2 separate regions of the Homo sapiens genome follow, and region 2 is linked to region 1. The links come from fine-mapping of genetic effects on plasma protein levels. Region 1 holds a variant in brackets. A gene starts in the other region. All regions are shown on their forward strands.

Evidence for each region. A credible set is the group of variants that fine-mapping cannot tell apart. PIP is the chance, under the fine-mapping model, that this variant and not a neighbour inherited with it causes the effect. Protein levels are from antibody-based Olink assays in UK Biobank. Linkage for the fine-mapping came from a reference panel and not from the study's own genotypes, which makes the PIPs less certain.
Region 2: it holds the start of UMOD, and the variant in region 1 is the best candidate, but not a certain one, in a credible set for the plasma level of the UMOD protein (UK Biobank, PIP 0.59).

Annotation. Positions count from the first base shown.
Region 1 is chr15:76,007,701-76,016,045 of GRCh38, forward strand. It overlaps NRG4 (neuregulin 4), which reads right to left and starts at 4,724. Exons shown (of 6, transcript NM_138573.4): 1 at 4,619-4,724; 2 at 3,521-3,586; 3 at 1,500-1,593. The coding sequence starts at 3,530. The variant A/G (reference allele first, on the strand shown) is at 4,462.
Region 2 is chr16:20,349,335-20,357,648 of GRCh38, forward strand. It overlaps UMOD (uromodulin), which reads right to left and starts at 3,381. Exons shown (of 11, transcript NM_003361.4): 1 at 3,355-3,381; 2 at 1,316-1,505. The coding sequence starts at 1,403.

The sequences.
Region 1 (8,345 bases):
TTACAGGTGTGAGCCACCGCGCCCAACCTAAATGTACTTCTTCTGATAAGCATTCTTGTTTTATTTTAAACATTCTACGTGCCATATCACCTTAGAAAGAATCCAGTATGAATATATTATAAAGTTAAGTGAAACTTGTGAGTTGTATTCAAAGGTGACACCTTTCTTCTTCCCAGCTATATGACCTTTGGCATGTCACTTAATTTCTCATTTTCCCCTTTTTTAAAAAATTATTTTCTAAGGTCTCCCCTGCCTCCTTTCTCTAAGGTGTTTGTGAGAATTAAGTGTTGAGCACAGTCAGCAACAAAATTTGGGGGGATTATCTATGGAAATGTTCTATATCTAGATGTGATGGTGGTGGTGATTTCACAGGTACAAACACTTGTCAAAATTAATCCATTTTGCACTTTAAATGAATGCAGTTTATCATACATAAATTATATCTCAGTAAATAGATTAAAAAAGAAGAGTATACTGCTGAGGCACATCATGAGTGTTAAGTAATTGTTAATTTGTTCCTCCATTCCCTTCCCTTTTCATATTCACTAGAGAAGAAAAACACCTGGGCACTATTCCCCATATGAGAAGCCCTAAAAACTTCTTGAGATAATTGTGAGGTTATTTCTCTCTGCCTCCTCTCCTCCATACTACATCCCAGTATCTTTAACTTTTCCTATGGATTTTACTTTTCTATCCTTTTATGTAGCTAGATCTTAAATCTAGATTCTATACTTCTCATTTCAGTTAAAGAACAAGAAAGAGTAATTCACATGTGTTACAAAATATCTTTAGATCTTGGGTGTTAGCTCCACAGTATAGGGCAGTACTATGATGTTAACTCATATACTAAAAGACGTTTATTATATACATTTAAATCCTATTCAACCAAACTCATAGGAATCAGGCTACAGAAGTACTATTTTGAAGTTTTTTATGGGTCACTGGCTGTATCTATACTCCCACAGTGAATTATATTATTTTAAAACAATAGTGGCTAAGATACCCTTCTTTTTTATTTGCTACCACCATTAGAAAAACTTAACCCTTCTTTTGCTTTTTAACATATAAAGTGTAAGTTTTGGTGCCAACTCAGTTATCATGTGTTTATGTACTAAAAACTCAAAATAAAATATATCATATTAGGTTTTTTTGATTAGCAAATTCCCTAGCTGTTTTGCCAGTAATATTAAGCATAGACTGCCTTCCTTAAATTGCTAAAATCAAAGAGTTCACTAAAAGGGATTATTTTTTAAAAATGTGTCTAGGCTAGGAACTACCATTAGCAATTTTCAGAATAAACACCTTGATTAGTGAGATTTTTATGTGCTATTTTATTTTGTTTTTGTTTTGTTTTAAAAGGATAATTTTCCCTAAATAAATATGAATATGCCTCACATCTTTTCATCTTACACTTTTTGTTTACTTTTTATCACTTCTCAAAGAAGTTAGTAGACAATAAAAAATAAAGTTAACATCTCCCCCTAGTCCATTTCACTCACCTACAAAATGGGCTGGGAATAGTAGGTATCACATAACAAAGCCCCCCATTCAGGCAAAACGACTTGTGACTGGGACCACAGGGCTCTTCGTGATCTAGAACACATACATATATAAAATAGAGAAAAGCAAATTAAAGTTTTCCTAATGCAACAAGGAATAGGAATAACTATCTTAAACTGAAGTAGCAATTCTGAAAATCAGAATGAAGAATTTTTTTTCTCAAAATGAAAGATTTAATTCTATTCCTTATTTGACAGACTGGGACTTCTATGTCTTTGAGAGAAAAATTATGTCCTAAAGATATGGCCATTAACTATAATGGGTTTAGACATTATATAACAGAAATAAGGAATATCTATATTAGTTAGATTAAAAGGAGGTGATCAGCATCTTAGAACAAACAGGGCCTTTCTCACTTACTACAGAGATTTGGCAGTATTACCTAGCATTTCCCTGTCCCAAGAATTTATTTAAATTCTTGTTTTCCCTATTAGGTCTCAAATACATTAATATCTGAAATTGCAGCTGGTAAAGGATTTAGATAATTAACTTTTTATTTCCAAAGTTAACTTTAAATGTTCCTATATGACAATCTAAATGTCAGAAACCAAAAATAAACTTATAAGGTGTTGATTTGCAAAGTGTTTTAGGTAACAGTTACTAACCATAAGGCATATCTAAAGTTGCAAAGAAAAATTAAAAAGCTAAGTCATAGCTTGATATACAGCCAAATCTTTCAGAATATTAAGAAAATAAACCTCTACTTCTCTCTGACTTCTTTTCTCTCTTTCCTCTTTCCTCAGCCTCATCTTCCTTCTTTATGACCTTTCCTTTATCTATCTTTCTCTCTCTGCCTTCCCTTTCTCCCTTGGTACCTCTCCTTCCTTCTAGCCTCACCCCCAAGACCTTTTATAAAAAATCCCTGTCCACCAAAGCCATTGTATAGAAAAAATTAGAATAACAGAAGGATTCATTGAGTCATTATACTAGTAATTTATGAAGAGAAAATTGGTGAATATCTTATCTTCCAGCCTTAAAGGGGAAATTACATTGCTTTAAACTTGTACATTGTTAGTTCCTAATTGTTTCTGTCTAGGAAATGACCCAGAATCATCTAATCAGAATAAGAAAATGGCATTACTCTCCCACTGGGACTCCAATTTGACATTAAAATTAGTATATTAATTTTAAAAATTATCTAGCATTTATGTGCCACTAAGATATCAATACTTGCTAAGATATAATTGCTATGAGTCAGATATCTCCACAATCAGAATTTCAAATTTTAAAACTTTTGTTCTACTTTAGAATTGAGAAAATCCTGTTTCAGCATCACATTATAGCCCTAAGAGTATAAAAATGTAAAGACGAAATCAGAACTACAGAGAACTGGTGAAAAAGAAAGTAAAATCAACCAAAATGAATGCTTTTAGATTTTTTTCTTTTTTACACAATGCCATGCTTCTTCGTAATCAAACAACTTTCAACAAGATTATAAAATTTTTCAGGAATAATTTGGCTAAAAAATAAAATTAACATTACATCAGCATCAAAGGCGTCATCATATATGGTTTTCCACTGAGGGTGGAATGTAACTTTATCACAGCTAAGATTAGTGTCCTTGTTTTAATTGGATTATAGTCAGACATATCTCAACACTTGGCATTTATTTTATCAATAAAGAAAACTCATCTAACCTGAATCATTATTTCTGAATCTACTTTTATTCTGACTTCTATTTCCTTATTATTTGAGCTGATTTCAGATATAGGACAAGCTAGAATTTATCAGGTTATAAAACCAATAAAACACATATATCTAAAATAAAATAGCTTTATGTCACAAAGGAAGGTCTCTCAAAACCAAATATTTCATATTTGAAATATTAATTTCATATTCACATCTCTTCCAATGATGTTGGAAGGGAATAATACAGCCTTGTGTTAATATACATTTTTGATTGTTGTTCTATTGCTATGGACACATATTGACAAAAACATATAAATATATAAGAAATTACCTGTTGGCATCTTAATTTGTAAATAGTTTCATTCTTGGTCAAGAGAGTAGGGTTGAAAAACAGTACCTAAAACGGTTTAAAAAGTAATAATTCAGGGAAAATAGTCTTCTTTTAAGGGCATTATAAAATGTCAAATATTCTAATAGCAATATTCTTAAATGTTGAAAATAAAATAATAAAGACATTTATATACTAGGGACAAATTTTAGTTACAGCATTTTTAGATACCTATTGCATTTCAGTAAAAAATATGAACAAAACTAAAAGATCAATAACGTACTTAATATAAATCATTGCCTAAATAATGTAATTTAATCTTAAATATCTCTCTGCAGAAAAGTCTAATAAGGCTTTTTTTCGTAAACATTGTTAACATAGTAGAGTACTACATGGAATTTTACATGAACGATGAGACAGTAAGTAAAACTGAATGAACTGAACCTTTAAAACTTTTATAAAAGCACTTTTAAGTTTACCATAGATTGCACATTACATTTACCAACCTATGCAAACCTTTCTTCTAAAAAATGTCCAGGGCTGATAGGTGCGGCAAACCACCATGGCACACATGTTATAAACACACTATGTAACAAACCTGCACGTCCTGCACATCTATCCCGGAACTTAAAATTAAATTTAAAAAAGAAAAAAAATGTTAACCCCACACACACACAAAAATGTCTGGCATCTGGCAAAGCAATGTAGCTAATAAGACATTCTTACATATGAAGTTTCCTGCTATAACAGAAACAAAAGAATTCAAACATATATTTGAAGAGGTGAAGCATTTATACTTACATTATGATTACAAGCTCCCAGTTCTGTTCTATAAAGAACACTTCTGACCTAAACAGAAAGACTCTAACAGAAATCTCAATCTACTAACACAGTTGTAATACCAAGGTCTTCTCTCAAAGCCAACAGCTCTTTCTTAGACAAGC[A/G]GAGAGGCAGAGAAAGCGAGCAAGCAATCGAGAGAAACACACACGAGCGAGAACAGGCAGGAAGGAGAACATTAAATCTATTTGATTTTTAAAAAGCACTGACTCATACTGTTTCTTTTTTCCAAACAAACAGGACTTACCCTCAATAAAAACTTACATTCACACAAAAAATAAATTTTGTTGGACATGCAGTGTTTCAAAAGTTTTTGAATACCGCAGACAACAGCAGCTGTGACTTGCATTTTATAACATGTCAAAAATCTGATTTATATGGCTGCAGTGTGCAGTGTGGGCGAGGTCACGCCAGACCAAGGTGTGCACAGAGGTCAGGCACTGGCCACGGGAGCCACCCCTTCAATTTACGTGTTCAGAGTTGCAAATGGAGCAGAATTTTATTTAGAAAAGGAGTTGAACTAAGCTGCACTTCCAAATTACTGTCCACGTTTTAAAGGTAAAAACCAAACCACATTCCTTAGACTCCTTACTTATCTTTGCTTGTCTGAATAATTCAAGACGTAGTGTAAGTTTGGGAGAAAAGAAATTTTAATGTGGAGCTAATAGATAAGTGTTTCACAAATTAAAAAAACATTTTTTTAAATTTATGTTTTATGAGGTTTGTGTTACCTTACAAGCCAGATAAAATTTATATAAATAATGACCTGAAGAACTTATAAAGCTAAAAGAAGGTAATAGCTATAATAAAACTTGTAACACCAAGTTCAATTTGAAATGAATAAAATCACTGAACTTGACTAATACCAATGACAGTGTAATGCCTGAATGCTATGGCAAAGTTGTTAAATATACAGTGAGGAAAGTTAAGTTTTAAAAATCATAAACAATTTTAAAATATTGACTAAAACTGTAATTTTGTTTAAATGAATATAGAGTTCTTCATCATATAATTATCTAAAATATGCCAAACATTTAGATGGTTATCTTTTCTAAAACGACAATTCAGACATTATTACTTGACTGATGTAAAGCCCAAACTAATAAGTTTGTTTTGTTGTTTTAAGAAAATATTAAAATAAACTCAAAATCAAATACTCTAAAAACAATCTGTTCATTAGGAGAATGGTGTGAACCCGGGAGGCGGAGCTTGCAGTGAGCTGAGATTGCACCACTGCACTCCAGCCTGGGCAACAGAGTGAGACTCCGTCTCAAAAAAAAAAAAATGTTCATTATTACATTTTTAAAATTATACTTTAAGTTCTGGGATACATGTGCAGAATATGCAGGTTTGTTACATAGGTATACAAGTGCCATGCTGGTTTCCTGCACCCACCAACCTGTCATTTACATTAGGTATTTCTCCTAATGTTATCCCTCCCTTAGCCCCCCACCCCGACAGGCCCTAGTGTGTGATGTTCTCCTCCCTGTGTCCATGTATTCTCATTGTTCAATTTCCACCTATGAGAACATGCGGTGTTTGGTTTTCTGTTCTTGTGTTAGTTTGCTGAGAATGATGGTTTCCAGCTTCATCCATGGCCCTGCAAAGGACATGAGCTCATCCTTTCTTATGGCTGCATAGTATTCCACGGTATATATGTGCCACATTTTCTTTATCCAGTCTATCATTGAGGGGAATTTGGGTTGGTTCCAAGTCTTTGCTATTGTGAACAGTGCCGCAATAAACATATGTGTGCATGTGTCTTTATAGTAGCATGATTTATAATCCTTTGGGTATATACCCAGTAATTGGATTGCTGGGTCAAATGGTATTTCTAGTTCTAGATCCTTGGGGAATCACCACACTGTCTTCCACAATGGTTGAACTAATTTACACTCCCACCAATAGTGTAAAAGCATTCTTATTTCTTCACATCCTCTCCAGCACTGTTGTTTCCTGACTTTTTAATGATCGCCATTCTAACTGGCATGAGATGGTATCTCATTGTGCTTTTTGATTTGCATTTCTCTAATGACCAGTGATGATGAGCTTTTTTTCATACGTTTGTTGGCCACATAAATGTCTTATTTTGAAGACTGTCTGTTCATATCCTTCACTCACTTTTTGATGGGGTTGTTGGTTTTTTTCTTGTAAATTTGTTTAAGTTCCTTGTAGATTCTGGATATTAGCCCTTTCTCAGATGAATAGATTGCAAAAATTTTCTCCCATTCTGTAGGTTGCCTGTTTACTCTGACGAGAGTTTCTTTTGCTGTGCAGAAGCTCTTTGGTTTAATTAGATCCCATTTGTCAGTTTTGGCTTTTGTTGCCATTGCTTTTGGTGTTTTAGTCACGAAGTCTTTGCCCATATCTGTGTCCTGAATGGTATTGCCTAGGTTTCTTTCTAGGGTTTTTATGGCTTTACGTTTTAGGTGTATGTCTTTAATCCATCTTGAATTAATTTTTATATGAGGTGTAAGGAAGGGGTCCAGTTTCAGTTTTCTGCATATGGCTATCCAATTTTCCCAACACCATTTATTAAATAGGAAATCCTTTCCCCATTGCTTGTTTTTGTCAGGTTTGTCAAAGATCAGATGGTTGTAGATGGGTGGAGTTATTTCTGAGGCCTCTGTTCTGTTCCATTGGTCTATATGTCTGTTTTGATACCAGTACCATGCTGTTTTGGTTACTGTAGTCTTGTAGTATAGTTTGAAGTCAGGTAGCGTGATGCCTCCAGCTTTGTTCCTTTTGGTTAGGATTGTCTTGGCTACACAGGCTCTTTTTTGGTTCCACATAAAGTTTAAAGTAGATTTTTCTAATTCTGTGAAGAAAGTCAATGGTAGCCTGATGGGGATGGCATTGAATCTCTAAATTACTTTGGGCAGTATAGCCATTTTCAAGATATTGATTCTTCCTATCCATGAGCATGGAATGTTCTTCCATTTGTTTGTGTCCTCTCTTATTTCCCTGAGCAGTGGTTTGTAGTTCTCCTTGAAGAGGTCCTTCACATCCCTTGTGAGTTGTATTCCTAGGTATTTTATTCTCTTAGTAGCAGTTGTGAATGGGAGTTCACTCATGATTTGGCTCTCTTTGTCTGTTATTGGTGTATAGGAATGCTTGTGATTTTTGCATACTGATTTTGTATCCTGAGACTTTGCTGAAGTTGCTATCAGCTTAAGGAGTTTTGGGGCTGAGATGATGGGGTTTTCTAAATATACAATCATGTCATCTGCAAACAGAGACAATTTGACTTCCTCTCTTCCTATTTGAATAACCTTTATTTCTTTCTCTTGCCTGATTGGCCTGGCCAGAACCTCCAATACTATGTTGAATAGGAATGGTGAGAGAGGGCATCCTTGTGTTGTGCTGGTTTTCAAAGGGAATGCTTCCAGCTTTTGCCCATTCAGTATGATATTGGCTGTGGGTTTGTCATAAATAGCTCTTATGATTTTTGACATGCATTCCATCGATACCTAGTTTATTGTTTTTAGTTTTTAGCATAAAGGGGTATTGACTTTTATCAAAGGCCTTTTCTGCATCTATTGAGATACTCACGTGGTTTTTGTCATTGGTTCTGTTTATGTGATGGATTACGGGTATTGATTTCTGTATGTTGAATCATCCTTGCATTCCAGGGATGAAGCTGACTTGATCGTGGTGGATAAGCTTTTTGACATGCTGTTGGATTCAGTTTGCCAATATTTTATTGAATATTTTCACATCGATATTCATCAGGGATGTTGGCCTGAAGTTTTGTTTTCTTGTTGTATCTCTGCCAGGCTTTGGTATCAGGATGATGCTGGCCTCATAAAATGAGTTAGGGAGGAGTCCCTCTTTTTCTATTGTTTGGAATAGTTTCAAAAGGAATGGTACCAGGTCCTCTTGGTACCTCTGGTGGAATTTGGCTGTGAATCTGTCTTGTCCTGGACTTTTTTTGGTTGGTAGGCTATTAATTACTGCCTCAATTTCAGAACTTGTTATTGGTCTATTCAGG
Region 2 (8,314 bases), not on the chromosome of region 1:
CAAAACAAGGAAAGAAGCAAAGAAACAAAACTCCTCTGATGATGTCAAGCCTCCACCGTTCATTCTGTGTTTATTTCATTGTATTTTTTAACTTTATTTATTTTTTTGGAGAGGGGTCTTGCTCTGTCGCCCAGGCTGGAGTGCAGTAGTGCGATCATAGCTCACCATAGCCTCCAATTCCTGGGTTCAAGCGTTCTACTCCCTGAGTTCAAGCCACCACCGCACCCTGCCTCAGCTTCCCAAAAAGTTGGGACCACAGGCACGTGCAATCGCGCCCAGCTCCACCATTCATTTTTTGTGTTAAGCATTGCTTTCAAGCTGTCTTCTTTTAAAATAGCCACATTCAGAAAAGTAATGCGCAGAATTCCTATACTTTGGTAGGATTTACGGTGAACCTGTTGCCCCTCCCTTTCTTTGCACATTTTATGTTTTCTGCTTCCCTGGCTGGTGAAATCTTCATCAGGACCCTGCTCAGTGTCGCCTCCTCTCTGCGGAGTCCTCCAACTCCACCTGGCTGGGCAGTTGTACTTTGTTCCTCCGTAATAAAAATAACCATTAAAAAAAAAAAGAAGCTGTTGTTTATTAAGCAATTACTATATGCCAGGCAATAGGATGTGCACTTTTCACTCACTATCTTGTTGAATACTTCCCAAGGGCCTCGTGAGGTCAGTTTTTTATGTATCCTTATTTTAAAGATGAGGAGACTGAGGTTCAGAGGGATTAAGCCCCTTACTCCTTTGGTAAGAAGTAGAACCAGGATAAAAACGCAGATGGCAGGACCACAAAATATGTGCTTTTAACCAGGACACCGCAATAGTATTCATCGTGCCCCAACGTACTCCAGGGAGAAAATGAAAGTGGGGTGACAGCAAATCTCAACCCAATGGAATGACCTCTTAAAGTTGAAAGGGAAGGTGTTTGGATCCTCCTGCATGGGTTCAAATCTCCTATGTGATAGAGTATGTTTCTGACTTCCAATAAAGGGCCTGCAGGCCTTAGAGATGTTCTAGCCCCTTGCTTTTCAATGTGTACTCCAGGGACCCCAGTATGAGCATCGCCTGGAAGCTTGTTAAAAATTCAGCATCTCAGGTCCTACTGCAGATCTGCTGAACCAGAATATGCACTTTAGCAAAATTTCTAAGTCAGTCCTGTGCATATTGAGTCTAAGAAATGGACTTAGAATGAAGACAATGCAAGTCTCAAGTGCGATAGGAGGATTGAGATCACCTCTGACAGGTGCTACATTGCTTCCCCCACACATTCACACATACACGTGCATACACACATATACAACGCACACACACTTTTCACTTACTTGCTTCTGAGGTGTCAGTGGCTGCAGTTGTGATGAACCAAGAGGCCACCACCACCATCAGCATCCAAGTCAGAGATGGCTGCCCCATCCTTTCTGCTCTTCCCGCTACTTCAGGTCTAGATAGCACCTGCCCAAAGGAAAGACGGGTTGGCCCTTTGAATTTTTCTCTCTGTCTCTGATGTCTGGTGTCCTGTGAACAGAGATGGATGGGACAAATGCATGATCTAACTCTCCTCCCCACAGCTGGAAGGAGTGCTTTGATTGTATAGTATACAACTCCAGGAGGTGTCACTTATATGGACTAAAAAATTGCATAACACTGCAGCCCTTGTTTTGCTGGGACTTTACCCCTTGTACTCCCCCTCCTTACCTCACCAACATCCCAGTCTTGGCTCCCCAATTCTCAGCACATTGCACATTTTGAAGAACTCAGTCATTTGGAGCAGGAAGTAGCCAGATGGAATAGTGTTCTGGACTCACCACTTTACTGAAGGCAGCTTTGGATTTTAACTGATCCTCTGCCTGGAAACTTTCAATTTGCCTGGATCACTTATTCATTCAACAAACATCTATTGAGTAGCTACATTGTGCCAAACAGGGAGCTAGTCACCATGGAGAACAATGAACATGGCAGTCTGCTCCTTCATGCAACTCACATATCGTAAAGAAGTGGCTTGAGACGAGCAACTTGAGAGGTAATTAACCTTCACAATGCATTTAAATGTTTCTGGAGTGGTCACTTACTATTTCTTCCAATTGGAAAAATAGTCCAGGGTGGATGCCAGTATTACCCCAGTGTTTATAGCAGCAAAATAGGGTGGCATGTTGGTTAAGTATGTAGGAGCTGCAGCCTGCACCTGAGGTTCAAATCCCTGCTTTACTGATCACTAACACTGTGATGTGGGTATTTCAGTTTACTAAGTCTCCGTTTTTGTCTGTGAAATGGAGATTGTTGCTTTCACAAACTGAATATCTATGATGGGCCAGGCTCAGTTCAAAGACATTCATGTGCTCAAAGGCATTGGGTCCTAGAGCAACGTTTTCCAGATCTTCGTGACCATGATGTACTAAAAGAAAAACATTTTATGTTGCCAGGTGCAGTGGCTCATGCCTGTAATCCCAACACTTTGGGAGACTGAGGGGGTGGATCACAAGGTCAGGAGTTTGAGACCAGCCTGGCCAGCATGGTGAAACCCCATCTCTAATAAAAATACAAAAATTAGCCGGGCATGGTGGTGGGCGCCTGTAATCCCAGCTACTCGGGAGGCTGAGACAGGAGGATTGCTTGAACCTGGGAGGCAGAGGTTGCAGTGAGCTGAGATCGTGCCACTGCACTCCTGCCTGGGTGACAGAGAGTCCATCCCCCCCCCCCAAAAAAAAAAAGACAGAAAGAAAGAAAAACATTTTATGTCATGATCTAGTGCAGTCGCTTCTGCATGTATGTGCACACACACATAAAATTTTATAAGACAATTGATATCCTTACTACATTAAGTGATTTAATTCTTACCACAACCCTATGAGATAAGTATTATCCTAGTTTGCAGATGAGAAAACAGGGGGACAAAGAGGCTAACTGCTTGCCTCAAATTTGTATTGCTTACTGACATATTCTATTATATTTAATTAAAAGAAGTCCCTGGATATAACCCACAAAAGGAATGATTTTATGACCCGCTAATAAGATGCGACCTAAAACACTGCATATTGTCACTGGGATTAACTAAGATGACATATGTCGAGCAGGGCCCAGCACATAGCAAGTTGTTCATTGTTGTAACCCTGGTACCTGGCACATAATAGGTGCATAACTAATATTCATGGAATAAGTCAAAAAATAGTAGTCATTGTTACTAGGACAGAGAGGATCAAAGAGAGGAAAACTAACTTACTAAAGATCATGAAGCCAATAATTGGCAGAATAATGACTCAAATCCAGGTCTGACCCCAGTGTCCAAGGTCTTAATTTCCTCTCCTACCTCCCTCAAATAGGATGGGGAGAAGCTGGGCTAGGAGAAGACAGCTACAGATAGCCTTACCTGAAGCCAGAAAGGTAGAGTTAGTCTGGTCATGATGTGCCTCATACTTATATATACACATTTGCCCCAGGCTGGCAATCTCTCCTCCAATTAGTCTCTAGTTCTGTTTTTTGATATTGTTTTCTTGGGGGTGGAATATTTTTTCCTCCTGGCATAATGTTTGCCTTGTCCAAGCTGTGAGGTTGTTGTTGTTCTTTTTCCTAATAGCTAGAGACCCCAAATGATTGACATTGGGGGGTCACACCTGTGCCCGGAAATACAAGGTCACTGTTTCGCACCTTCTAACAGCAAGAGATTCCATAGTTAGAAATTAACTGGGAAAGCAGTGCCAAGGTGCTGGGCTTCTTCTTGGTCACTGACAAGGGCAGGGTGGGATCAAGGAGCCAGGCAGAAGCCAGTATCTGAAGCCAGGCTGCATAAGGACAAAAGGGATATTCACTGCCCCAGATGGGAGGTGCACCTGTCTTGGAGAGGGCACCCTTCTGAAACACCCATTCTCATGAGATCAGCCTTAGAATCCAGACACAAGCAAGAGAGGAGCTGAGAATGGCTGAAAGTCAGAACCAGAAGGTAGTTCAGACATCACTGGACCTGACCCACTCTGTACAACAAAGAATCAGGTCTGATGACTGGGAGGTCCCTTTGGAGGCGAAATAAATTTGCACTTAAATAGACTGACTTTGGAGTCAGTCTGCCTCCTTTATCTGGTGTTTATTGTGTGGCAGTGGGCTCATTTCTTAACCTTCCTGAGGTCCAGAGGTCAATTTCCTTGTCTATAAAATGAGAATACCCATCTCCCACAGTAGTAATAGTAACCAAAGGAGATGATGCAAGTAAAGTCATATAGTAATGATTATATTCATGGAAGTAGTGAAAATTCTGCTTTGCTGTTGTGCAATCACTGAGGTAGAAAATGACAGAGCCTGAGTTAAAACCATGTCTTCAGACCCAGTTCAACATACATGACATTCCAAAAGTCAGTGTGAGAGTGGCTGTCATCATGTTGAGAAAAATAAAATATGTGTGAACTTGGGCTGAGCAGGAAAATATCACCATGATCACTGCATTGATCTTTTTTTTTTTTATACTTTAAGTTTTAGGGTACAAGTGCACAACGTGCAGGTTTGTTACATATGTATACATGTGCCATGTTGATGTGCTGCACCCATTAACTTGTCATTTACATTAGGTATAACTCCTAATGCTATCCCTCCCCGCTCCCCGCATCCCACAATAGGCCCCTGGGTGTGATGTTCCCCTTCCTGTGTCCAAGTGCTCTCATTGTTCAATTCCCACCTGTGAGTGAGAACATGCGGTGTTTGGTTTTTTGTCCTTGCGATAGTTTGCTGAGAATGATGGTTTCCATCTTCATCCATGTCCCTACAAAGGACATGAACTCATATTTTTTATGGCTGCATAGTATTCCACGGTGTATATGTGCCACATTTTCTTAATCCAGTCTATCATTGATGGACATTTGAGTTGGTTCCAAGTCTTTGCTATTGTGAATTGCTCTTTTCAGGACATTTCTCCATCCTGTCCCACTCAGTGGTAGGGTAACCACTGGCACTGGTGTTGTCATCTCCTCAGGATTATGTCCAAGGAGTGGAAATTCTGGGTCAAAGAGGTAGCACAGCTGTAGGAATATTGACTCCTCTTCCCAAACAGCACCCCAGAGAATTATTATAAATTGGTTTACAATCCCACCAACACTACTCACCAGTTCTGAGCATTGGTAACTTGCTTTCATCTTTGCCAAAAGGATAAGTGGAAACGATCTCATTATTGTTCATTTTTGCAATTCTTTGATGAAAAGGGAAGTTATCTCTTCATTTATTTACTTTTTTTTTTCTGAACTAGTCGTTTTTATCCTATACCTTTTTCATGAGGCCTTGTCTAAACCTTATTATGGGTGTCTTCAAAGGATTAAAGACAGTGACCCCAGGTGGCTTCTGGAGTTTTCTTGACAAAGACTTGGGCAGGAAAATGGGGAGTTTGGGTTGGAATCTATTCATAAGTGTAATCACCATGCTTTCTAGTTTCTGTATTTGGTGCTTGTACATTTTGGGGCCTTACTGATCATGGAGGGACTGCCCCTCCCAGGGCTCAATAATTACTAGAGATCAAAAACGACTTATCTGTGAATGTGCCTTTCCGACTGCAAATCAATCAATCCAGACCACATACCCCCAACCCTTGGCCTCCTTTTTGGGGCTTTTACACTTAGGGTCACTACTTGCTGCTTTAGATCACCCCAAGGGACCAGGTACCAGACAACTAGAGACAACTCCTATGGCCCAGAGGTCTCTGAAATTATTCAAACTAAGCCAATCCTAAATCTGCTTACCTTGCCTCTCCCATTCCTTCCTGCAGAAACTACAATAAAGGCTCTTTCCTGCCTTTTCCCTTGCTCTCTTTGCTTCCTGACCGACCCTGGTACTTCCCAGCAGCTCTTCCTCTCCCTTCAGCCCCTCTGCCCAGTGTGGTGTGTCCCCTTCTCTTGGGATCTGTGAGTATAACAAGTTGTCAGTGGCCATAATTTCCTGCTCTGTTGCTCATCAAGTTCACCAAAGACATCCATGTTACCAAATTCAATCAATATTTTTCTCTTTATCTTACCTCTAGGACAGTGCACAATAAATATTTGTTTTTGAACGAACCTTAATCTCTCAGCACTTCGCTCTTGAAACACTCTTCTTTCTTTCTTTCTTTTTCTTCTTCTTTTTTTTTTTTTTAATGGAGTCTTGCTCTGTCACCCAGGTTGGAGTGCAGTGGCTCAGTCTTGGCTCACTGCAACCTCCACCTCCCAAGTTCAAGTGATTCTCTTGAATCCTTGAATCCTCAGCCTCCCGAGTAGCTGGGATTACAGGTGCATACCACCATGCCCGGCTAATTTGTGTTTTTTTTGTACACATTGGCCAGGCTGGTCTCGAACTCCTGACCTCAGGTAATCTGCCTGCCTCGGCCTCCCAAAGTGCTGGGATTACAGACATGAGCCACCACAACCAGCCTGAAACACTTTTCTCTCTTAACTTTCAAACATGGGTAGGAGACTTGATCTTAATAATGCTGAGAACAATCACCCACTGAGCACTTCTCTTGGGTCAGACACTGTGCTCAGTGCTTTTGCCTCCATTGTCTCAAACAATGAAACACAACAACCCACGTCACAGGGAAGAAGACAAGTTCAGAGAGGTGGAGTAACTCCCCCAAGATTACACAGCTAGCGAGTGTTAAATCCAGACTAAAACTCAAATCTCACTCAGATTTACCTGCATTCCTTGGGTTACAGAACATTCCATGCTCAGCCATGACAGGGTCTTAGAAGGATAAGTGGTTTTAGGTAGTTTTGGAAAGAGTGAAACTAAAGGGTGGAGAGTTTTGAAAAATTGATCAAACAGAACACAAAAACTTAGAATGAGAGGTTGGTGTGTGTCAGAAAGCGGCAAAAAATGAGCCAAGGGAGAAGATCCCCCAAAAGAGGGGTATTACCTGTCCCACCTACCTCTCTGAGCACACACCTCCTGAGGCTCCAGTTACGCCTGGGGGACCTGGAGGTGGCACACCCATTCTCTGGCTCGTGGCCTGTCAGGGGCTCTATGCCACATGATCTAGTCTAGGCAGCCCCCCGTAACCCTCCTTCAACTGGCAGCCACATGACCTCAAGGCCGAGGCAGGTGAGCCTTACACCGTGTCCTGAATACTAACACCTGCTCCTGTTGGGGAATTCGGCTCAGGTGAGTTCCAGAGCCGCAGGCTGTTCCCTGCTTCCTCTGGTTGTGGACAGGCCAGGTTCAGGGTGAGGGGCATGGGAGCTGTCTCTGGAGGTATGAGAAAGCACAAATAGCCTTTGCCTTACATGACAGGTGAGGAGTGGAGAGACCCAGGTGGTTTCTAGAGACCTCAATTTCTAAAAGAATGCTGCCCTTCTTTTCTCAAGAGAAGGCCTGGCTGAAATGAATGACACAAATCCATGAGTTAAATCTGTGGTAGGCTGAATAATGACCCCCAAATACGTTCACCTCTGAATCCCCAAACCTGTGTGTGTTGCCTTTTATGGCAAAAGGGACTGTGCAGTGTGATTACAGATCCTGAGATGGAGAGGTTGTCTGGGCAGGCTGGATGCAATCACAGTGGTGCCTATAAAAGTGATGCAGGAGGAGTCAGAGGAAGTAGGTGTAAGGATGAAATGAAAAGTCAGAGTGATTCTAGGACAGAACCATAAACCAAGGAATGCAGGGGCCTCCCAGAAGCTAGAAAAGGCATAGCAGGGAATTCATCCAAAAGGGACTAACTCGTGAATTTAGTCCAGTGGAATTGATTTCTAATTTCTAGCCTCCAGAACTCTAAGAGAGTAAGTTTGTGTTGTTTTAAGCCACTTAAGTGTTAATTTGTCAGATCAAAAATAGGGAACGAATACAGATTCCAGTTTGGATCTGGGGACAACACTGTCAGCACCTCTGCCTTTTGGGATGACTATGAAATTATGTATTTCTCACCTAAAATGGAATATTTGATTGATCCACGAGCATTTATTGAGCATCTACTATGTGTCAAGCAGAGTTCTAGGCAAAGGGAATACGGCAAGAAAAAAAACAATAGATATATCTACTTTCGTGGAGCTTACATATTAATTGGAGAATCAGGCAATATATCATTGCACAACAAAATAAGATGCTTTCAATTTTTAGTCTCCAGGAATGCCTTTTGGAGGTGGTGACAGGTGAGCTGAGATTTGAACCAAGAAAAGAACATGGCTATGTGAGGAACTGGGGGAAATGTATTTTGAAGGGAGTGCATTTAGGCAGAGGGAACATGAGGAGAGAGTGAATTTGGCTTGTTCATAGAGTAGACAGGAAGTGTGGCTGGGGCCTAGAATGTGAGGGGGAGAGGGAGAGGAGGAGATCTGTGGGGCCAGACCTTTCAAGGTGTTGAAGGCATGGTAGGCAGACTAGATTTT